3 separate regions of the Homo sapiens genome follow, and all the other regions are linked to region 3. The links come from fine-mapping of genetic effects on gene expression. A gene starts in region 3. Each other region holds a variant in brackets. All regions are shown on one strand. Distances are between the middles of the regions.

Region 1 (8,147 bases), 110 kb before region 3:
CTAAAAAGTCCACAAGAAGAAAAGTTTTCATTTCTCCCTAATCCATCCTTCAATCTTGAGTATCAACATTTTGAATAATTTCTGCTGAGCACTATATATCTGGGTTTGGCTGAAGTATAAACAAATCAGGAAGACCAAGTTTCCCAATTGCACTAGAATTTTAATACATGTCTGGTCACGTCTCTGACAATTCCTGGTTTTGCCTTGGGAATTACTAGGGGAAATGCCAAAGCTAAGTAAGTTCTACAAATCAACACAAAAGTGGCATACGTCATTCGCCCCAGGGCCATTAGTTTATGTAACCTTGTAAAACCGAGTTTGTAATACCTATAACGTAAGGGTAACAGTACCAACCTCTTTCATAACTGAAGAAGCCGCAAAGAAATACTCAGGATACAGAAACATATATACAGACGCACACATACATAAAATCAAACTTTTTTACTCAAAAAGCAGATTCTCCCAGACTAAACTCATTTCTAAACGGAGTTTCACTCTTGTTACCCAGGCCAGAGTGCAATGGCACGAACTTGGCTCACTGCAACCTCCGCCTCCCAGGTTCAAGCGATTCTCCCACCTTGGCCTCCCAAGTAGCGGGGATTACAGGCACCAGCCACCATGCCCGGGTAATTTCTGTATTTTTTTTAGTAGAGATGGGGTTTCACCATGTTGGTCAGGCTGGTCTGGAACTCCTGACCTCAGGTGATCCACTCGTCTCGGCCTCCCAAAGTGCTGGGATTACAGGTGTGAGCCACCGCGCCCGGCCTAAACTCATTTCTTGAATGTACTCCTATATCAGGGTATGGAGTCCTTGAAACTCATTTAATGAAATGTTTACTCTGTGCAGAGAATACTGGGTAGGTATCTAGGTTCAAAATATATTTCATATTTTAAGGATGTTATCATCTAAGACACAGGAAACTATATATGTGTGGTCTATAAAACCATATATAGCGTTACTAAGAATAAAACTTTGAGGGAAACAAAGACATGAAGGCCAGTTTCTACCAACCTTCCACTTTGACCAGGGAAACCAGGAGACTGCACATAGAGGCCTATTTGACTGTGTTCATCAACAGAAATGAACAGATTGCAAGATAAGCAAAACAGGCTCTAGAAAGAAGCAGCCAATGAACAGCTAATTTATAATTAAAAGGAAGAAAAGCAGCTGCACCTTGGGAGCTCGGAATTTAGTCACTACCAAGACCCAGGGCCACTGCTCAGAGACAAAAGGTAAACACGCTCATTGTAGTCAAGATGTATCGGAATCACAGACTTGGAATCTTAGAGCTGAAAGGGGCTTGAGAGCCCACCCAGACCTGCTCACGCTGTAGGAAGGCGGAAACTGAGGCTCAGGGAAATGAAATGGCTTGCCAAAGATTAAGGCTAGAAACGTCCAGCCAAGGGCTCTTTCACAACTCCTATCCCTGAAATATCCCATAACGGCCAGATAGGTCATGGGGTATTAACCAACAAAGAGATCCAGCATAACTGCTTCTTGAAATACAAATCACTCAGACTCCCAGGTTCCATCAGGAAATAGCAAAACATGAGAGGGAAAGGACTGGTAATGCCATGTTACCAGTCAGAGGTTCCATCAGAAAAGAACCACTAGGAATGATGTAGAAAGAGAGGATTGTGAAAGCGGTTTGAGCAATTAGAGGGGCTGGTGAAAGTCTCGGTTCGGCTGTTTCTTCTTCACCAGACCACAGGCCAGGCGGTTGGAAAGGATGGTGAGGGAGAGCAAGTACGACTGAGACCTGCAAGCCACAAGCTGGGACCTGCACCTGTCTCTCATCAGAGCCCGTGCTGGTCTCTCATCCCCAAACCTTCATCCTTGTGGCTGCAGACCAAGAAGCTGGTTCTCATACCCGGCCCAGGGTCTGGAAAAGCCAAAGGCAGAGTTCTGCGGGAGTGGGAGGAGCCGTGGGCCCAGCGGCTGCCCACACCACAAGTGCAGGAGATCCATGGTAACGTGCACGTGATGGAACAGGGCCTGACCTACATCCACTTCCAGTGAATACACATGGCTGTTGCTCTACTTCCACTTCCAAACCTCATGCAAATCTCTCTCGTGGCCAACCCTCACCAGAGAAACAAACAAGGAAGGGAATTCTGGGAACACAGTTCAGTTTAGCCAAGTTCACGACACTGCAGAAACCACAACATGCCATCAAAATATTAAACTAACTAGAATTCTTTCCGGGAGTATTGAATTTGCCTATTGTTCTTCTGCCATACTTCTCCGCTTCCACCCAGTAATAAGTAGCCTATCACCTACTCAGGACCCCAGTCTAAGTGAACCCCATGTTTTGTCTAACTTCTACTTTAGAAGTAGACACAGTTGGCTGGAGAGCTGGCTGACTGCGTGGTTTGTTTGTGCTGCACTAGGTCTGCCATCCTGCCCTGTGCCAGCCACTAACAGCTGCAGCAGTGGAAAGGCTCGGCCCTCGCAGGCTTGAACTGCCACCCACTCTGTGCTTTCATGTGTCACCTGTATTAAGTGCAGTGAGGATAATGGCACCTAAGCTATTTTTGTAGCTCTGTAAACAGCCCTTCATTCCTCGAAGCTACAAACATATCCCTGTGTTCAGAACCAGGTTCTGTATACTCCAGAAGAAAGACAATGATGGTGATGTCTTAAATATACCACTTTTTGTCAATCTAGGTGAAAGAAATATGAATATTCATTGTATTATTCTTTTGAATTTGAAAATGTAAAATTAATTAATTTTTTTTAATTAGCTGGATTTGGTGGCACACACCTGTAATCCCAGCTACTCAGGAGTCTGAGGCGTGAGGATCCCCGGAGCCCGGGAGTTTGAGGAGTCAGTGTGCTATGATTGCGCCACTGCACTCCAGCCTGAGCAACAGCACAAGACCCTGTCTCAAACCAAGATTAGAATCAGATCAAGTTTAGCCAAGATACATTAAATTAAGCGCATCAATTTTAATCTTGTGAATCTACTGAAGGCTCTTTCTGGTATCTGAAAACACACCTCCCGACGCTTGCAGGAACTTAGGGAACAGGGTACAGGCCTGCATGCCGTCCTGGCCCCAGCGACTCCCTTCAGCTCTGACTTTTAGTCTCAAGGTGTCTGCCTAGGTCTGCTCCTCACATTCCACTCTTTGCTTCTCCAGTCCTTGCTTCCATTAGAACACCTATGATGTGTAAAGTACGACACTAAGCACTTTTGTTGTTACTCAAATAACTTCCTTTCCTAAACTCCCAGAGAAATTCAGCAGCTTTTTGAGCTTTTTTCTTTTCAGAAATGAAGGCCTGAGGCTATACGGCCATATTTGTATCCCTGGCACAATATTGGACACATCAAATGGGTTCAAGAAATGTCTGTGGAATGAGACATCTCTGCAGTCAAAGAAAGCTAAACTATGTCTGCATCAAGGAAACCGGTTATCAGTGGAGATGAATCTGATGAGGGTGTGGAAAGGAAGGCTTCAGCTTCTGATGACGACTAAGGGACACCTAACCTGACAGTCAACAAAATGCCAGTGTTCCACCTGGGCAGGAAGACGCGCCCCAGATAAGGGCTTGGTGTGACGGAAACAGTCAGGGTAGAAACAGGAACAATACAGAGACCTAGATTCAATTAGTTTTTCAAGTTGACCACACATAAACCAGACAGCCTACTGAAAAGTTCATGAGGGCGTTGAGAACACAGAGCTTCGTAAAATATTTTCCCCTTGTCTCCATATTTTTATTCCGGTACCTGGACTGGACTATATACTCTCAATTAAAAAAAAAAAAAAACTAAATAAAAATAATTCTCAATGCAGAGTTCTTCAAAGAATTCCTAATAATTCACACGTTCCAGCTTCAGTTATCACCGAGAACTGGTTAGGTTCCTTCCACACCGGGAAACTGCATCAAGGAAAAGAGCTGGGCAAAGTCAGATTTTCATGCCAGCCGGACTCCTTCGCACCCACTTTCAGGGAGCCTCCC[G/A]CCAGCCTCCAGACCTGGTCAGATGATATGACCTTAGCTCCACACGTCCTCAGGGTGTCGGTGTCTGGGGCTCCCAGCCCCAGGCAGGCCGGGCAGCAGCTACAGCCTGAGCTCGCGGTCGGGCTTCATGCTGAAGGGCTCCAGCCGCTCGCCCTCGGGCAGCATGCTGTTGAGCCTGTCCAGCAGGGGCACAGTCTGGTCGATGCCCATCTGTATGCGGCGGAGGATGGCGGACATCTCGTTCACTTTCTGGATCTGCTCGGCATACTTGGCGTATCTTTTCTGGCGCTCCTGCATGAAGCTGAACAGAGTTTCTACAGACAGATCCATCTGTGGATGGGAAAGAGAAGTACATTATACCTTGTTTAATCAAGTCCTCTCCGCAGGGCCGGGTGTCCAGCCTGTGAGGGACACAGTCCCGCAGATCCAGTGGAAGCTGACAAGTTTTACAGGAAGCACCCAGGGCTAAAAAGCCCTTCAGGGACACAGCTTTATCAACTGTTGTGCCAGAACCACCTTTAGAAGAGAACTGAGAGGGGACTGTCCCTGGCTCTATGTTCTGGGAATGTGCGTTATTTGTACCTTGTTGAGATCCTGAGATTTCTATCTCCCTATATGAGGGGAATTCTGGATGTGGAAATCAGTCAGGCCAAGGCTGAATCTGGCTCTGTCACGTGTATGAGCTGCTAATGCTTATCCTTTGTGTCTCAGGTTGCTTATCTAGAAAAAAACTAGGAGCAGATGGGCGTGGTGGTGTGTGCGTGTAATCCCAGCTACTTGGGAGGCTGAGGTGGGAGGATGGCTTGAGTCCAGAAGGTCGAAGCTGCAGTGAGCCATGATCATGCCACTGCACTCCAGCCTGGGCGACACAGTGAGACCCTGTTTCTAACAACAATAACAAAAATCCCAAACCCCAAAATGCATGTTCTTCACTCAATCCTTCTCTTCCCTGGACGGCTGCAGTTTGGCGGACACTCGGGGAACACTGCAATGGAAGGGAGGCTCTCCCTGCCAGGGCCAAAAATGCAACCAAGGCTCCCGTCCTTACAACACACCACATTTGTCAAACTGTGAGGACTATCTCATGTGCCCTTCTCCCCCATTAAAGAAACTGCGGGCTCTGGGCTGCCCTTGCGTGACTTCTTCTCTTCCCCTTACAGAGGCTCTTTAGTACCCATCACCCAGATAAAAATAGAGAGAGAGACCGCCATCGTGTTGGGCACTTGCACCCCTTCCTCAGCATGGACCCCACTTCCACCCCCTCACCCCTTGTTTCTTTCCCAGGCCAGGAGAAAACAGCTCAACTACTGAGGCCCACACTCCTATCCCAAGGTTCCCAGGCTCCTCCAGCCCTTCCTTCTGGTTTATTCCTGGAGCACGCCCCTTCCCGACCTTGCATCAGGACAAGGGCTCAACACCCGGTACCAGAGAGCCTCTGAAAATGGCTTCGAGAGACACAAAAACAAACTCATGAAAACACGGGGGACCAAAGCCAGCCCCAAGAAAAAATAATTTCCCTTTTGCTATCATCTGTGGGGAGGGCAGGAGGGGCGGGAGGCGACCGAAGCACATCAGTGTTGCTGTCCTCTGGCGGGCCTCTTGCTTGAGTGCCTGCAGGGCAGGAGGAGCAGCTAGTTGGGCACGGGGAGAAGGAGAAGAGAAAAAAAAAAAAAACATGGGAGTGAGAAACTCCAAATAATGTGGAAACAATGCACACTTTCCGGGGTTCTCTGCAGCCCTGTCTGGCGCTCAGCACTTTGGAAGTAGTGAGCCAGGAGAGTCCTGTGGTCCTGACAGTCACCCGCTGGGCCTTTTCAGGGTGGCCTTGCAATGAGCACTGAGAAACACTCCACACACCTGAGAGACAGCGGGGCTCGTGGGAGCCAGGTGGAATCCTGAATTGGGAACCTTCTCGGGCATCACATTTTACTTGGCAGGGCATTCCTGGCCCTCCACCCCGCAACCCTACCAGACTAGATAGATGCTTGAAGAGTTTCTATCTGAAATGGCCTCCAAGGCTCTAACTTATCAAGTCTAAAGTCCTTGGCAGTCAATCCATCCCCGATTCACACCTGATGAAGACTGTTCACAGCCATCTTCACAGGTACTTGTCAAATGGCATGTACTTCCCTACATGTTTCCACATCCAGCTGGGGCCCGTGTTTAATGTCTCCAAAGCTTTTGTAAAGGCACTTTCTGTTAATGCTGAGATGAGCACACTGAGTTCAAACAGGTTGTTCATGCGTGCTGACATCATGTCTTACTTCCATTATGCTCCATGGAAGAAAAAAACCGCAAGAGGAAACTTGAGTTTGCGTGACTTTGAAGATCTCACAGTGACAGAACCTACACTGGACCCCAGCTCTCCGAAGTCCAGCAGCTCCCCTCTTTTACACATATTTCCTGAGCAAGACCCTGTATCACTGGTGCTTTATGAGACTTTTGTTGGCACGTGGCACTGCATTAAAGAAGACTAGATCACATGTAGGGAAAGTTATTACCTTTTAAATGTTTCCCCCATTCTTTGTTGCAAAGAAAGTCTCAACTTGGTGCAAGCAACAATGGACTATCTGGAAAAGGATGGTAAAACTGTTGATGCCTATTTTTGATGTCTCTGACCTTTGCTCTTGAGGTAACATTGTCCTTGATCCATAATCCCTACCTTTACTCCACGAACCCCCAGACACATGCTCATTGTAACACATTTGATGTGACTGTAGGCAGTAAACCAGTATCTCACACAATTCTGAATCACCATTTTGACAATCTAGGGATATATCCTTATTTGCCTTTCCTATTTCTATTTTTGGCACATGGATTCTAACAAGATAACATATATACTAATTGTCTTCTGGATAAGCAGAGGTGTTATGATATCACCTAGGGTTGCCTCACTGAGCACCCATAGCCATTCAAAAGACCCAGCTTGGCCAGGCGTGGTGGCTCATACCAGAACTTTGGGAGGCTGAGGAGGGCGGATTGCCTGAGCTCAGGAGTTCGAGACCAGCCTGGGCAACACGGCGAAACTCCGTCTCTATTAAAATACAAAAAATTAGCCGGGCGTGGCAGTGTGCGCCTATAGTCCCAACTACTTGGGAGGCTGAGGCAGGAGAATCGTTTGAACCCAGGAGGCAGAGGTTGCAGTGAGCCAAGATCGCACCACTGCACTCCAGCCTGGGTGACAGAGCGAGACTCCATCTCCAAAAATAAATAAAATAAAATAAATCCAGCTTCAGACAGGGCAATCTAACCATCCAAGCTGGAGCTAAAGGGCAACCACGAAGCTGTTTGTGAAATGGATAGTCACAATTTTTGTTCACCACACTCATCAATCCATTCATCTACCAATAAAACAACGGTTAAGATTGCAAGTTCAGGAGTCAGACCACCTAGGTTTAAGGGCTACCCTCGACCCAGTATCTATGTGATTTTAGAAAATTACCCAGAAGGCTGATTCCATGAGAGCAAGGATTTGGTGTGCTTTAAACCCTGCTATATCTCCAGTACCCAGCACATAGCAGGTCCTGAATAAATATTTGTTGAATAAATGAATGAAAATATACGTAAGCCTCGGTTTCCTCATCTGCAAGGTAGTGGGGATAACAAGAGTGGCCACTTAAAAGACTGTCCTGAGGATTAAATGAGATTCTGCAAGGAGAACATTATCATCCTGCCCAGCACACAGTGAGCACTGGGTAAGTGTGAGCTATTACCACACAGGCAACAGACAGTTATTGAGTAGCATCACGTGCCATGTGCCATGCACTATGCGAGGTCCTAGGATAGATATTGAGAACCAAAACTACTTACACCCACACAGCTTACCGTGTACATTAACATGAATTTTCTTTTCCACTGTTTCTGTTAACATGACTTTACTATTCCAGGAAACTCAGGCCCAGAAACATATAAATTGCAAATAACTTTGTTTCAGGAACTTAAGAAAAATTAAATGAATAAACTAGCTGATTTTCAAATAGAAAGTGAACAACTCTTTATTCTCCACAACTCTTGCCTCAAAACCCTCGCCTTGCCGTGACACATGACCAAGTTATAATCAGTGGTGTGTGCATGCAGAAGTCTCTCCTGGCAGCTTCCAGGCACCTTCCTGGAAAGGCAGCCGGCATGCACTCTTTGTTGCTTCTCTTCTTCACTGTCCCCTCCTCCACTCTGCTGCTGCTGAAAT
Region 2 (8,183 bases), 120 kb before region 3:
TCCTTATAATCTAGGTTTTGAGATAGATAATTATTAAAATTAATGAGAGAGTATTGTCAACATTAAAAAACAAAAACCCAGACTCCTTCCAGTAAGGATTTGAAGCAGTTTTCAATAATAGGTTAGAACCAAAAGATACACATATTCTCACACATACACATTATAATGGTATAAAGGAGCAATAATCAAGTAATAGGGGCTAGGAAATGTACAGTAACTGACAAAAAGTCTGAATTGCTACTTCTTATTGAAATTGAGTAGAAACCTTAGCTTTGAGCTTCTTAGCAGTAGGGCAGAAAGGGAAGGAAACACTGAGAGTAACGTGGGGTAAATGATAGCTGAGAAGGAAGGGGATGCTGGAGGCACAGGAAGGCATGAGACTGTGTACACGAGTTTATATGTTCTTACTTGTATAGCATGCAATTCTTTGTTTGAGTGTTGCTTGGTATTCATTTGTTAGTGTTTTATTGTGTTTGGTTTCCTGATCTAGAAGGGAAGCTGCTTGCTGCTTAATTATTCATATGCTACCCAAAACCTGTATGTTGCTTTATATATGATGAATAATTATGTTATATATAATAATCATTACACTAGAAACTTATATTTATAGCATAGGCAGTGAGATTGAATAGCTTTGTATTATTCAGCTGCCAAAGTAAGATTCTTTGCGCATCTGTTAATCGCAAGAATTTTAACACAAGGTTCAGTAGACTTTTGGTAGTATCTACCAAGAATGAAAAGGGGAGAATTCAGCTTCATGACTGAGCACACATGTAATTATTTAGAATTGAGGCAGTCATGGAACTGGCCAGAATGTTAGTAGCTTCCAGGCTGTGTGGAATAACCTCGTCCCCTGCCACATGTACATATTGTTAAGCCCCTCAGCAGTGAGAGATGGCAGCACTGCTTGGATTTCCTTGGTTCTTTGGTTCTAACAAAGTGTCCGTGAGTCCTTCCATCATGTTGTGGGGAATTGAGATAATGCCATAAGACAATAACTCCTGGTATCAAGGAAGGGATAAAAGTTCTCTTGGATCTCATTAAAGTGACCTGCTAAACCTGATTCATAGCCTATACAAGGTTTTCTTCTAAAACTCAGTAAATAAAGTTGAGCCATTTTATGACATACAGAAAAGTTGCTTAAAATAGGGAGGCCAGGGGCAGTGGCTCACTCCTGTAATCCCAGCACTTTGGGAGGCTGAGGTGGACGGATCACTTGAGGCCAGGAGTTAGAGACCAGCCTGCCCAACATGGTGAAACCGCAACTCCACTAAAAATAGAAAAATTAGCCAGGCGTGGTGCTGCACACCTGTAATCCCAGCTACTCTGGAGGCTAAGGCAGGAGAATCACTTGAATCCGGGAGGCGGAGATTGCAATGAGCCGACATCGTGCACTCCAGCCTGGGCGACAGAGCAAGACTCTATCTCAAAATAGTAATAATGATTTTAAAAAATGTAATTATATTTCTTAGGTAATCAGGGAAAAATTTGAAGTGTCAGATAACAGGAATATATTAAATATTACCCATATCTTAGGGGAAAATACTAACATAAGTCAGGAAACCTGAGTTAGTAGTAGCTTGCTTATTAACGAATTGCTTATTAACAAACAGTTTTGGACCCCAGTTGTCCTGCATGTCAGTGGTGAGGGAATTATCTTCCCCTGCCTCCTCAAAAGAATATTGCGAGGATAAATATGATATACACAGATGAGATTTGCGTAGAGGTTTTCAGGTGGAAGACACTGAGTAAGTAAATGGAAACAAGATTTCACTGCTGAACAAAATAGTTAGTAGTGACCTTTCTTGCATTTGACTTATACAGAGAAAGCAAAAGCCTCCAATGGATGTGTTCTAGTGCACTGTTTAGCTGGGATCTCCCGCTCCGCCACCATCGCTATCGCCTACATCATGAAGAGGATGGACATGTCTTTAGATGAAGCTTACAGGTGAGGGCAGGAAAATGTCTTCTGTGATTGGCTTTTCATTTGACCTGAAACATAAAGAATGATGAGGATGGGTAACCAAATTAAAGCAGATCATGATTATTTTAGTCACATTTTTTACAGGTTACTGTGGATTTTTTAATGGTCTTGTGAAGATTGGAAAAGAATGCTGTTTTACTATTTAGCATTAATTCTGCCTTCACATGTGTCAGACTCATCCTCAGCCACTTTTTATGTTTAAGGAACAACAGATCCAGGCAGAGATCTCTATCCTGTTACATGAGTTTATTGCTTTCCCTAAATGCAAAAGTATCCTTTGTTTTAATTTGCATATGATGGGGGGAAGCTCTAATAGAATGCTCACTGCAGAATCTCTGTTCTGCTTCAAACTTTGGATTGCTGGGAAGAAAAAGCCTCATAAATGCAAATATGAACCAGATTAACTGTCAGACTCCATTCTTCAGTAAAATTTCCTACATTCTAGAGTCGGCCAGATTGTGTGTGTGTGATTTTGACTGGGTTGCCTCCAGTCTCTGATTTGTCTGACTCCCCTGCATGTATCGTTGGGTAGAGATGGTTCATTTTTATCTGATAAGGAATCAAAAATATAGAGACTCATGGAGCAGGCCTGATTTAACAGTTGGATTTTTTTTTTCTCAAATTGCAAAGTTTGGAAAACAGAAATGAGCTGCCCAAACAGCTTCCCATGTTAAGTCAGCAGCCTGGAGGACGTGGGTCCTCTGGTCATCTGCACGAGCTCTCATGCCGCCGTTCAGACCTCCCTGAGGTCCTCCTGCTCCATGTAGAAATCAGAAGAAAAGGCACCCTTCTATCACGTTATGAAGTCTCATTATGAGCACCCTACATTTATACTTGTTATTCTTGAGCCAGTTATTTCTATTTTTGTGAATTTGCTTTAGGTTACTTGATTTCCAAGTTTTTTTTTTCCTTGTTCCTTATTCAAATGCAAATTTTCAGTGTAGTTCTACTCCTCCATCACCTGAAAAGTATCCATGAGGTGCAGGGGCCGCTGAAGAATTGGTCTGTCATCTCTGAGTCTTTATTTCCTCCATGAAACATGAAAGCCATCTAGTATTAGTTTTGATCCTTTGATGAATCTTTTTTTTAACATAGTGGTTACAAAAATGGACCCAGATATTTGACCAGCCTGGTTTTGAATCCAGCACCATCATTTAGTAGCTGTGTGATTTTGGGCAAGTCACTTAAGGATTCTGTGGAGCTATATGATGGGGATAATGACACCCACCTGATAAAGGGTAGTTCTGAGGATGAAATGATGATTCAGTGCATAAGCACAGTGCTTAGCACACAGAGACCACTTTGTCTTGGTTAGTCTGTCATGTTGACTATAAAAAGAAGTGTTGCTTTGATACTTTGATCATCTGATACCATCTTCTTTTTGTCATTAAATTTAAAATGTGAACTGTCTTGAGAAGTGACTG[G/A]TGACTTTAAGAGGGGATGACATTGGAAATTGAAGAAGGAGAGTGGCTGTTATACTGTACTTTTGATGGTAGCACTGGTGTGTGTGTGTCAGGGGTGTCCTTGGTGGTGAATAAATAATCATCTCTTGGCCAGGCATGGTGGCTCACACCTGTAGTCCCAGCACTTTGGGAGGCCAAGGTGGGAGAATCACTTGAGCCCAGAAGTTCAAGACCAGCCTGGGCAACACAGTGAGACCCTTTCTCTACAAAAGAAACTTTAAAAATTAAAATTAGCCAAGCGTGTAGTCCTGTAATCCCAGCTACTCAGGAGGCTGAGGTGGGAGGACTGCACGTGCCCAGGAATTCGAGGCTGCAGTGAGCTATGATCATGCCACTGTATTCCAGCCTGGGCGACAGAACAAGTCTCTGTCTCTTAAAAAAAAAAAAGACCACCACCAACAAAACCCCATACCATCTCTTATCAGCTGCATTGGGAGCCCTGGGCCTTTGAAAATAAGGAGACAAAAACTAGAGCCTTTGGGGCCCAGCTGCCTCTTCTGGCATACTCCAGGATGTGTGCAAAGCTTCCCCAGTGCCTAGGGCCTTTGTATTCTCCACCTTGAAGCATCTCCCCGAACTTGTAAACCAATCATCTTCCAAAGTTTTTGAGGTCTGCCTGATAATTCCCTATCTCATTTATTCACTTAATATTCTTAAGATAAAGTGTAGTTGTAAAATTCGGGTTTTTGTTTTTTCCTCTCTCTGCAGATTTGTGAAAGAAAAAAGACCTACTATATCTCCAAACTTCAATTTTCTGGGCCAACTCCTGGACTATGAGAAGAAGATTAAGAACCAGACTGGAGCATCAGGGCCAAAGAGCAAACTCAAGCTGCTGCACCTGGAGAAGCCAAATGAACCTGTCCCTGCTGTCTCAGAGGGTGGACAGAAAAGCGAGACGCCCCTCAGTCCACCCTGTGCCGACTCTGCTACCTCAGAGGCAGCAGGACAAAGGCCCGTGCATCCCGCCAGCGTGCCCAGCGTGCCCAGCGTGCAGCCGTCGCTGTTAGAGGACAGCCCGCTGGTACAGGCGCTCAGTGGGCTGCACCTGTCCGCAGACAGGCTGGAAGACAGCAATAAGCTCAAGCGTTCCTTCTCTCTGGATATCAAATCAGTTTCATATTCAGCCAGCATGGCAGCATCCTTACATGGCTTCTCCTCATCAGAAGATGCTTTGGAATACTACAAACCTTCCACTACTCTGGATGGGACCAACAAGCTATGCCAGTTCTCCCCTGTTCAGGAACTATCGGAGCAGACTCCCGAAACCAGTCCTGATAAGGAGGAAGCCAGCATCCCCAAGAAGCTGCAGACCGCCAGGCCTTCAGACAGCCAGAGCAAGCGATTGCATTCGGTCAGAACCAGCAGCAGTGGCACCGCCCAGAGGTCCCTTTTATCTCCACTGCATCGAAGTGGGAGCGTGGAGGACAATTACCACACCAGCTTCCTTTTCGGCCTTTCCACCAGCCAGCAGCACCTCACGAAGTCTGCTGGCCTGGGCCTTAAGGGCTGGCACTCGGATATCTTGGCCCCCCAGACCTCTACCCCTTCCCTGACCAGCAGCTGGTATTTTGCCACAGAGTCCTCACACTTCTACTCTGCCTCAGCCATCTACGGAGGCAGTGCCAGTTACTCTGCCTACAGCTGCAGCCAGCTGCCCACTTGCGGAGACCAAGTCTATTCTGTGCGCAGGCGGCAGAAGCCAAGTGACAGAGCTGACTCGCGGCGGAGCTGGCATGAAGAGAGCCCCTTTGAAAAGCAGTTTAAACGCAGAAGCTGCCAAATGGAATTTGGAGAGAGCATCATGTCAGAGAACAGGTCACGGGAAGAGCTGGGGAAAGTGGGCAGTCAGTCTAGCTTTTCGGGCAGCATGGAAATCATTGAGGTCTCCTGAGAAGAAAGACACTTGTGACTTCTATAGACAATTTTTTTTTCTTGTTCACAAAAAAATTCCCTGTAAATCTGAAATATATATATGTACATACATATATATTTTTGGAAAATGGAGCTATGGTGTAAAAGCAACAGGTGGATCAACCCAGTTGTTACTCTCTTAACATCTGCATTTGAGAGATCAGCTAATACTTCTCTCAACAAAAATGGAAGGGCAGATGCTAGAATCCCCCCTAGACGGAGGAAAACCATTTTATTCAGTGAATTACACATCCTCTTGTTCTTAAAAAAGCAAGTGTCTTTGGTGTTGGAGGACAAAATCCCCTACCATTTTCACGTTGTGCTACTAAGAGATCTCAAATATTAGTCTTTGTCCGGACCCTTCCATAGTACACCTTAGCGCTGAGACTGAGCCAGCTTGGGGGTCAGGTAGGTAGACCCTGTTAGGGACAGAGCCTAGTGGTAAATCCAAGAGAAATGATCCTATCCAAAGCTGATTCACAAACCCACGCTCACCTGACAGCCGAGGGACACGAGCATCACTCTGCTGGACGGACCATTAGGGGCCTTGCCAAGGTCTACCTTAGAGCAAACCCAGTACCTCAGACAGGAAAGTCGGGGCTTTGACCACTACCATATCTGGTAGCCCATTTTCTAGGCATTGTGAATAGGTAGGTAGCTAGTCACACTTTTCAGACCAATTCAAACTGTCTATGCACAAAATTCCCGTGGGCCTAGATGGAGATAATTTTTTTTTCTTCTCAGCTTTATGAAGAGAAGGGAAACTGTCTAGGATTCAGCTGAACCACCAGGAACCTGGCAACATCACGATTTAAGCTAAGGTTGGGAGGCTAACGAGTCTACCTCCCTCTTTGTAAATCAAAGAATTGTTTAAAATGGGATTGTCAATCCTTTAAATAAAGATGAACTTGGTTTCAAGCCAAATGTGAATTTATTTGGGTTGGTAGCAGAGCAGCAGCACCTTCAAATTCTCAGCCAAAGCAGATGTTTTTGCCCTTTCTGCTTCACTGCATGGATACAGTTGGTAAAATGTAATAATATGGCAGAATTTTATAGGAAACTTCCTAGGGAGGTAAATTATGGGAAGATTAAGAAAGGTACAAATTGCTGAGGAGAAGCAGGAAACCTGTTTCCTTAGTGGCTTTTATCCCCTCGGCATGCGATGGGGCTGATGTTTCTATGATTGCCTCAGACTTTCACATTTACTAGTAGGGCTGAGAGAGGCTTTAGTGAGGAAGGAATATTCAGAATAAAACGGTTGAGAAAGCTGAGAAGACCATTGAGTTTTGATCAGTTGTGAATAGAGTGCAAAGCCATGGCCAAGCTGTTTTTGGAAACGCTGGCCGGCGTGTCTTCAGTGGAAAAAGCAAATCAAAATGGAGCGAGAGCAAAGGGGCGTCCTCAGTCCTCAACCTACAATCACTGTATGGAATCGGTCCTGGCAGCTGAACATAGGAGGTCACTGGAACAAGTGATAGTGCAGATTGGCTTTCAAACATCCTCCTGGCTTGAGTTTTATCAGCTACAATGTGGGTCCTCTTTTGAAGCCTTAATTCACAACAGCAGCTTTTTGGGGGTGGGGCTGGGCGGGTGTTGTCATTGTTCTTTCCCTTCCTGTAAGTGTCGCTAGTTGCTGCCTCGTATCTCAGGTTTTTCTCTGTTTTTGAGAAATGGACAGTTTTTTGACCAGGATGTGACTTCATGTTTCCTATGGTGACTTCTAAAACCAGCACAGAATGATATGACTCAACACAGACCGACTTGGTTATGGGGATGATGAGCCGCACAGACCTCACTAGTTGTGCACAAATAATGTGCTATGATGGGGTGTAAAGTGAAGGCAGAAGAGGGTCAGCCGCATTGTTATGATACTGGGAAAGTGCTGGTCAACGATTTGAGTTAGTTTTTAGATATACATTGAAATCTTTAATCAGACATTCTCAAGTTTCACACAGTAGTTTTTGATGTTATGTACACACACACCAAATGTGTAACAGTTCACCACTTCCAGAGTGTGGTCATGCCCAAAACATGTTTAAGAAAGGAAAGCAGTAGCTCCTTGCTAACGATGTTTCAGGAGGTTTGGGGGACTTGGTTTTAATGAGCTTCTGTCATTTAGGGCTTCTCTTGGCCATGGTCCCCCTTCCTTCTGGAACTGTGATGTAGTCACATCCTACAGCCTTTAGTGCTGGTTCACTAGTGTCAGATAATCAGTTCTTGGAATCGAGACTGCCGTGGCGAAGGGGTGGCCTCGGAGGCAGGCTCTGGAGCTGCTTGGATGTCTTTAGGTGGGGTGGTGGCTGGCTCTCTTCAGCATGTAATTGGGGAAACCCTCGCGTCTACTAGGGGTGATACAGATGGTGATTTTAAAGAGCAAAACTAGACTTCTATGTGAGAAGTGCTGGAAAATGATTTAGGACATGTGTAAAGTTAGATGGAAAGACTGTAAATGTTTAATATGAATATAGTGTTCTTTTGAAGTAAGGCCAGCTGTTGAACGGTTAAACTGTGCATTTCTCATTTTGATGTGTCATGTATGTTAATGTATGAAATGATTAAATAAAATCAAAACTGGTACCTGTTTATACATAAATACGAGAAAAGACCTATCTTTGCAGCCATAAACTCGGTGGGAACACCACCACTCAAGTTGCCAAAGGAGGCAGTGGTGAAACCTGTCCTGTTCTCACTTAAATGAGGATTTAGCTCAAAATAAAGTGGTGGTGTCATCAGGTTTATTCCGTGTTCTGTCATTCACATGGAACACCGGATGATTAGCTAACAGTTTAGTGCCAGCCTTCATTCTTTACTGTGTACGTTAAATG
Region 3 (8,183 bases):
AAAAAAAAAAATTTCTTTTAATTAGTCAGATGTGGTGGTGCACACTGTAGTCCCAGCTACTCAGGAAGCTGAGATGGGAGGATCACTTGAGCCCAGGAGGTCAAGACCACAGTGAGCCATGATCACACCACTGCATGGGTAAGACAGCAAGAGTCTCAAAAAACAAAACAACAACAACAACAAAAACCCTCAGACATTACAGGATTTTATTTTATTTTGAGGCAGAGCCTCGCTCTGTCGCCAGGTTGGAGTACAGTGGTGCAATCTCGGCTCACTGCAACCTCCGCCTCCTGGGTTCAAGTAATTCTCTTGCCTCAGCTTCCTGAGTAGCTAGGACAACAGGCATGCACCACCACATCTGGCTAATTTTTGTATTTTTAGTAGAGATGGGGTTTCACCATATTGGCCAGGCTGGTCTCGAACTCCTGACCTCGTGATCCACCCACCTCGGCCTCCCAAAGTGCTAGAATTACGGGTGTGAGCCATCACGCCCAGCCCATTACAGGATTATATAACATGAATGAACTTCTTTCATAACTAAATATTTTCTTTTTCAGCACACAAAAGTATAGGCAGATTGTTTTTACTTTCTCTTTAATTCTCCTGCTATCTTGAGATATATATATATATCTCCCTATTTCTAAAATGAGAAATAAAGGGTACAAAATTTAACTGTGACTTGCCCAAAGTCAGCAGTGCTAGACAGTTAGGAAAGGAATTAGACATCTACAAGTTATTGGTACACAAGGCCCATCTCTGCGACACTGGAGTTGCAAAGCTGTCTATCCACCCTACCACATCAAGCCAGCTATGTTTAGTAAGTCCAGGAAAAAAACCTGTTCTCAACCCCCGAATGACTGGCCTATTCCCGAGGCTTCAGCCTCCTCACTCTTTTTTTTTTTTTTTTAAGTCAAGGCGGCTGGGCACGGTGGCTCACGCCTGTAATCCCAGCACTTTGGGAGGCCAAGCCAGGTGGATCACTTGAGGTCAGGAGTTCGAGATCAGCCTGGCCAACATGGTGAAACCCTATCTCTACTAAAAATACAAAAATTATCCAGGCGTGGTGGCATGTCCCTGTAATCCCAGCTACTTGGGAGGCTGAGGCAGGAAAATTGCTTGAATCCGGGAGGCGGAGGTTGCAGTGAGCCAAGATCATGCCACAGCACTCCAGCCTAGGTGACAGTGAGACTGTCTCAAAAAAAAAAAAAAAAAAAGAGTCAAGTCTCACTACATCGCCCAGGCTGGATTTAAACTCCTGGGCTCCAGCAATCCTCCCACCTGGGCCTGAGTAGCTAGGACTACAGCCCCCTCACTCTTAAAATTATAGCATTAGTCCAGGGCAAAAATAGCCAGTAAGTCCATTCTAGGCTGAGGCAAAAATCAGAAATTTGGAGGACAAAGAGGGAGATCAATTCAGGTTCCTTGGGAGAAAGTAATCCATTTGGAGGGAAGTGATTCAAATTATAAAGGACTCCCTAGACCAAGAAATCATCCTCTCCCCCAAATATCTTCCAGACTGGGACAAGAATGAATCTTTAAAGTGTTTTATGCTCTAGAAGGTAATATTCCCAGGCTCATTATAGTCATATCTCAAAGGTTAATCCAGGGATGCCATAGAACTGTTCTGCCTCCTAGAAGCTCGTCTCCGGAGGCTTGGCATTCACTCTTCTAGAAAAATCTCTGCTGCTTTTATTTCTTTTCAAGAAATATTTATTTACCTGTTTTGGTAATTTACCTAACATTTTACAAAAGCCATGCCAGAAATCTTTCCTGCTATAAATTGTGATTCCTCCTTCCCCAGATACCAGAGGAAAGGGGACTTCAAAACACTCTAGCTAACCTCTACTACTTTATCTGTAAAATGGGATTACTGCAAAAATTATATGTAAATGTATGTAAAGTACCGGGCACAGGGGAATAGGCAAATTCTAACATCGGAAATGCTCGAATGCTGTTGGTTCATGGGCAAGAAAACAAATTAAAAAGATGCCACACCGCTTCCCCCTAAAATATGTTTCTGCCCTGCCATAGAGGCAAGAATGTCAAAGGTGGCAATTATTATATTTCTTATAACAGATATGACACTCTGGCCCTTCCAAGGAAATAGAAAAACGTAGCAAAGCTAGTAGATGCTGCTCACCATTCAAAGCTGCCCCAATCCAGTCCCCAGAATGTAGGTCTGAACTAGTCTTGAAAGTCACACCTTAAAGTGAAACACCCTTAGATCTATTAGCTTGCCTATTTCTGAATTACAGCTCCTATCAAGAACAGAGAACTTCTAAAATCGGCGACTCTTTTTAGGCCCCAGATTTAACCAATTTGCGTTAGCAACCCCGGAGCTTAACCAAAGCACTCCCAGCTGTCCTAGCGTGTGGGTAACAAAAAAAGCAGCAAATGGTCCTCAATTAAACATCAGCTGCTTTATCTATTTATTGAACACTCACTGTATTGCAAACACAATAATCCTCCCATTCTTGTCTCAAACGCTTAGAGAAGTCTAAAAATCATGGACAGAGAACAACAATGGAAAACACCAGTGCCTGCTGTCTGGCCAACCTCTACAAGATTAGAAAACGGACCAAGACACCTTCTGAGAAGAAAAAGCTGTTTCTGGAGACCTTTGCACTAAAGGGTTCAAAGCAAGTGGACACCTATCACATATCCCTTCAGAAAAGGAACCTCTAACACCCGTTTTTAAGAAACAGACTGTTCTTAGAGGTCCTATAATCCATCCACTGTGTGAGCCAAATCTCACTACATCAGCCATGAGCACTAGAGCCAAAAATTAATTAGCTCGTCTTTTAAACAGGAGGCTGTAGCTGGGAGAAACGGCTGTTTTGAAAATAAATAAGGGCACTGGCGCCCACGCTGGCTTAGCTTGCAGTCACACGCACTTCCATCAGGGGAATCGAGGCCAGGACAGATGGTGACTTTTTTTTTTTCCTACTAGCACGGTGAAGGCTTTTTCTGTGCGTTCCCGTCCGCAGTCCCTGACCCTAGTCTGGGAGGCAGCCCGCTCTGCAAGGGGACAGGGCGGGCTGGAGGAGGGTGGGAGGTTAGGACACCGACCTGAGGAGTTCAGATCGTTGGGTCGGCTCTCGGCCTCGGAGCTCTGCTCACTGCCCATGGTGCCGACAGCGGTGGCAGCAGAAGAACGGCGGGCCGGGCGGTCACCGCTCCGGCGGCGGGCGACAGGGCAGGGGCCAGGGACCGGGACGGGGAGGCAAAGCAGAGTCTGGGCGCCGCAGCGAGGCTAATGTGTGGGGCTGACGCGTCCAGCCCACGCAGGGGCCTGGGCGGCGGGAGAAGGAGAGGCCCTATTTGGGGAACAGAAACGCAAGGAGGCGCGGCGCGAACGCACGCGGCTAGCCCTCCTTCTTTCCGGGAGCCCTAAGAGAACCGGCAGATGACACTGGCTTTGCCGCACCTGCGGCCGGCGGGCGGCGCCGCTTTCACTCACTGGTTCACGCTCCGCAAGCTCGCTCCTTCCGGGACGCAGATGGGCGGTGCCGGCTACGCAAGACCTTCAGTTCCGGATTAGGAGGCCCCGCCCCCCGGCCCGAGGGAGGGGCGGAGAGACCCGCTCCTGCGACTTAGGGCGATGCCACCTTAAAGGGCTTGACCTCCTCGAAGCCAGAACTGCGGAAGAGGGTAAGCCCTTTCCTGTTGTAAGGATGCGTCACCTTTAAAACACCACCCACACTATTAAGCTCTTCAATACCCACATGTGAGAACAACTTTACAAAATAGGTATTTTTAACCCTGTTTTACAGATGGAGAAAGAAACGCTAGATAGACCCAGGATTCGAACCCACAACAGCTTGGATGCAAAGCTCATTTTGAATTCTGAAGAGCTGGGAGTTTAGCAGTGGACGACCAAACAAAAAAATACCAGAAGACGGTGAAAGCAGCAGCTGGAAATGAGAGAAAAATTAAGAAATAGAAAATGCTGTTTCATGTATTAGGGAGTGCACATCTTTAAAGAGAAGTGAAGAACCTTTTTGGCTAGGCGCTTTCTGGGGACCTTGGCAGTTATCAACAAGTCACTCTGAAACTAACAGAAGGTGAGGAGGGAGTAATCCAGAAAGGAAACTGCCATTTTTGCTAGGGCAAGAAAGTAGACCTAGCAATGCAATGCCATCAAGGAGTTAGCTGGCTCTAGCGTTCTCCGAACTTTGCAACTCATTTTATATTACATTGTCTGCGTCAAGAAATTTCAAGTAAATGCCTTGAGATTTTATATGTATAAAATGTAGTCTCTGGCCAGGCGGGGTGGCTCACGCCTGTAATCCCAGCACTTTGGGAGGCTGAGGCGAGTAGATCACGATGTCAGGAGATCAAGACCATCCTGGCTAACATGGTGAAACCCCGTCTCTACTAAAAAATACAAAAAATTAGCCGGGCATGATGGTGGGCGCCTGTAGTCCCAGCTACTCGGGAGGCTGAGACAGGAGAATGGTGTGAACCCGGGAGGCAGAGCTTGCAGTGAGCCGAGATCGCGCCACTGCACTCCAGCCTGGGCGACAGAGCGAGACTCCGTCTCAAAAAAAAAAAAAAAAAAAAAAGTCTCAGAAGAAGTGTCAAGTTGACTAAATGATTTTTAAGTCCCTTCCACTCTACTATATCACAATAATTTCCCCTATTTTACCTTATTTAATTTTCACAACAACCCTGCAGCCTGTAAGTAGGTGACTCCTCCATGGTCAGCAGGTGGTCAGTGGTCGAACTATTTAGGACTATCTGATGCTCTTTCCTCTGCTCACCATTGCAATACAATGAGAAAAATGCAAATGAATCTAAGTACAGTGTTCTCTGGGAATATGAAGATAGAACTAAAAACTGCCTGAGAGATCAGGGCAGGCTTCTAGAAAGTTGTGTCTAACTAGTCTTGAGGTTTACATAAACCACACCAGGCTGATGGGACTGGGAAGGGCCCACTAAGCAGTGAGACCATTCCCTTTTGGAGAGTCCTTGCATCCCCTCCCAGATTTCCTCTTTGAGGGGAAGGTGAGAGAGGAGGTAAAAGGGGTGAGGAATGGAGAATAACTCATTCTGGTTCTTGTTTCCCCTTTTCCACATAAAAGTATATTTGTCTTGTGTTCCATACACCAGTCCATACTGATGTGATGGTGTTTTTTATGCTTCCTTTTGAATAAACATTTCATTCTTAAAAGGATAGTCTGTCGCATCAACTGATGAATGGATAAATAAAGTGTGGTAATCATGGAATATTTATTCAGCCAAAATGAGGGAAGGATGAAATCATACTGATACATGCTACAACATAGAGTAACCTTGACAACATTATTCAATATGAAAAAGGCCTGTCAGGCCGGGTGCGGTGGCTCACGCCTGTAATCCCAGCACTTTGGGAGGCCGAGGCGGGCGGATCACGGGGTCAGGAGATTGAGACCATCCTGGCTGACAAACTGAAATCCTGTCTCTACTAAAAATACAAAAAAAATTAGCCGGGCGTGGTGGCGGGCGCCTGTATTTCCAGCTACTCAGGAGGCTGAGGCAGGAGAATCGCTTGAACCCAGAAGGCGGAGCTTGCAGTGAGCAGAGATCGCACCACTGCACTCCAGCCTGGGCGACAGAGCGAAGACTCCGTCTCAAAAAAAAAAAAAACAAAGCGTATCACAAAAGACCACATATTGTAGATTTCATTTATATGAAATGTCCAGGAGAAGCACTACAGAGAGAGAAATATGTTAGTGTTGCCTAAGGCCGAGGAGGGGTACGGGTGGAAGGGAAATGTAGACTATTATTGGGTATGGGGTTTCTTTCTGGGGTTGATGAAAATGTTCTAAAATTGTAATGATGAATGCACAACTCTGAATATATTAAAAACCACTGTAGAGTACACTTTACCAGGGTAAATTGTATGGTATACAAATTCCATATCCATAAAGCTATATTCAGTAAAAGAACATATGAAGATAAAATTCCTTCCTTCACTGGCTTAACATTTCTTGGGAACCTGAAATGTTCTAGGCACTTGCTACACGTTAAAAATAAAAAATTCAACAAGGCCCAATCCCTGTACTTAGGAAGCTTACAGTCTGGTGGCAAGAAAATTAAATGAGCATTTATATAACATAAGGAGTCTGCTGGAAGAGCTTTATAGCTAGGAAACATTTCAGATTGATGTCTTTTAGCACCTTTAAAATCCCTTCTACATGAGCAGCAAACTGTGTTATTGTATATGTAATAACTAGCAATTGAACAGCCTTTTTGAGTTTACAGGTCTGCAGGTCTATATGTTAGACCTGCATAAAAAGGTCTATATTATGACCTGCGTGTAAAGTAGATACCACTTTCCTAATTTTACAGAAAAGTTAAGTGATTTATTCTTGGTCACACAACTAGTGAGTGATAAAACCAGGATTCACGTTTTCAAAACTCATCATGCCTCTGTCCACTCCAGACTGACTCCTCTTCCCGTGTCTTTATATGACCTGGTACTCCCACCCAACCAGGCTCCCAAGCCAGAAGCCTGCTTACTGTCAGCACTGCATCCAACCAATCGTTGTGTCCTGGAGAGCCTCTCCTCTTAATTTCTCCTCTATCTGCATGCCCATTTCAGGGCCTTATCACTTCCGTTTCTTGGAAGAGAGGCCTCTGGCCTCACGTCCCTCAATCCATCCCTCCTGTGGCAGGTAGAGATAATTTTCTAGAATATTAATTAGGTCTCTGGACCTGTCACTGCCCTACAAAAAGCCTTCAGGAACTCCCCATGCCTTTAGGATAAAGTTTAAGATTTAACATATGAAAACCTTCCTGCTCTGACCCCAGCCTCTCTCTCTATTCTTCTGTGTACACTGGTAACCTTCCTAACAGGCTGAATTTCCTGTGGTCATGCAGTTTCCTATTCCTGAAATATTCAGCCTTTTCCTCCTCATCTGCTAATAACTTCATTCTTCAATAATTAACACCTCTTCCCAGAAATTGGGATCAGATGTCCCTTCTCTGAGCCTTTTTAGTTGCCATCTTCTATCATAACATTTATTCTTTTCTTGGGGAGGGCAGGGACAGGGTCTCACTCTGTTGCCCAGGCTGGAGTGCAGTGATGCTATCATGGCTCACTACAGCCTCCTAAGAGCCTCCTAGGCTCTTAGGAGATCCTCCTGTCTCAGCCTCCCAAGTAGCTGAAACTACAGACGTGTACCACCACACCATGCTAATTTTTATTTTTTGTAGAGATGGAGTCTTGCTATGCTGCTCAGGCTGGCCTCAAACTCCTGGGCTTAAGTGATCCTCCTGCCTTGGCTTCCCAAAGCACTGGAATTACAGGCATGAGCCACTACACCTGGCCTTCATCACACTTAACTGTTTACACAGCCATTGATTTACTTTTTCTCCTTCTGAACTATGAACATCTTAAAGGTAGATCTCATTGGTATTACTGGTCTTTAGTTTCCCCTGCAGGTGCTTAATACATGTTTTTTTTTTTGTTTGTTTGTTTGTTTGTTTGTTTGTTTTTTGAGACAGAGTCTCACTCTTTCACCCAGGCTGGAGTGCAGTGGCTCGATCTCGGCTCACTACAAGCTCCACCTCCTGGGTTCACACCATTCTTCTGCCTCAGCCTCCCCAATAGCTGGGACTACAGGCGCGCGCCACCATACCCAGCTAATTTTTTGTATTTTTATTAGAGACAGGGTTTCACCATGTTAGCCAGGATGGTCTCGATCTCCTGACCTCGTGATCCACCCGCCTCGGCCTCCCAAAGTGCTGGGATTACAGGCGTGAGCCACTGCGCCTGGCTGCTTAATACATGTTTTCCGATTACTTTTAAAGAAATCTTTCTCCACATAGATGGGACTTCTAACCCTCAGAGAAGAGTGTCAAGAATCTCTTCAGGAAATGAAGTGACAATGGATATAATTTCTAAGTTATGACTCAGGCCAGAAATTAAAGTTTTTATTTTATTTTTAAGTAAGCCAAGTGCAGTGGCTCACACCTGTAATCCCAGCACTTTGGGAGGCCAAAGCAGGAGGATTGCTTGAGCCCAGGAGTTTGAGACTAGCCTGGGCAATGTAGCAAGACCTCATCTATACAAATAATTTAAAACACCGGGTACGGTGGGTCACGCCTATAATCCCAGCACTTTGGGAGGCCAAGGTGGGCAGATCACTTGATGTCAGGAGTTCAAGACCAGCCTGACCAACATGGTGAAACCCCGA

Evidence for each region. PIP is the estimated chance that this variant, and not a neighbour inherited with it, causes the effect.
Region 1: its variant is fine-mapped to the expression of BORCS5 in whole blood (TOPMed, PIP above 0.99). The same link has a PIP of 0.9 or more in blood mononuclear cells.
Region 2: its variant is fine-mapped to the expression of BORCS5 in whole blood (TOPMed, PIP above 0.99).

What each region holds. Positions count from the first base shown.
Region 1 is chr12:12,461,690-12,469,836 of GRCh38, reverse strand. It overlaps BORCS5 (BLOC-1 related complex subunit 5), which reads right to left. Exons shown (of 4, transcript NM_058169.6): 4 at 1-4,291. The coding sequence ends at 4,061. Among named protein-coding and RNA genes, the nearest start is that of DUSP16, 97 kb to the left of the region's middle. The variant G/A (reference allele first, on the strand shown) is at 3,962.
Region 2 is chr12:12,473,988-12,482,170 of GRCh38, reverse strand. DUSP16 (dual specificity phosphatase 16) reads left to right here. Exons shown (of 7, transcript NM_030640.3): 6 at 1,825-1,948; 7 at 4,156-8,183. The coding sequence ends at 5,338. Among named protein-coding and RNA genes, the nearest start is that of DUSP16, 85 kb to the left of the region's middle. The variant G/A (reference allele first, on the strand shown) is at 3,409.
Region 3 is chr12:12,352,396-12,360,578 of GRCh38, reverse strand. BORCS5 (BLOC-1 related complex subunit 5) reads right to left here and starts at 3,501. Exons shown (of 4, transcript NM_058169.6): 1 at 3,070-3,501. The coding sequence starts at 3,127. LOH12CR2 (loss of heterozygosity on chromosome 12, region 2) reads left to right here and starts at 3,512. Exons shown (of 2, transcript NR_024061.1): 1 at 3,512-3,651; 2 at 3,774-5,171. RefSeq lists enhancers at 2,072-2,151, 3,038-3,716, a silencer at 3,092-3,171 and a cis regulatory region at 6,336-6,771.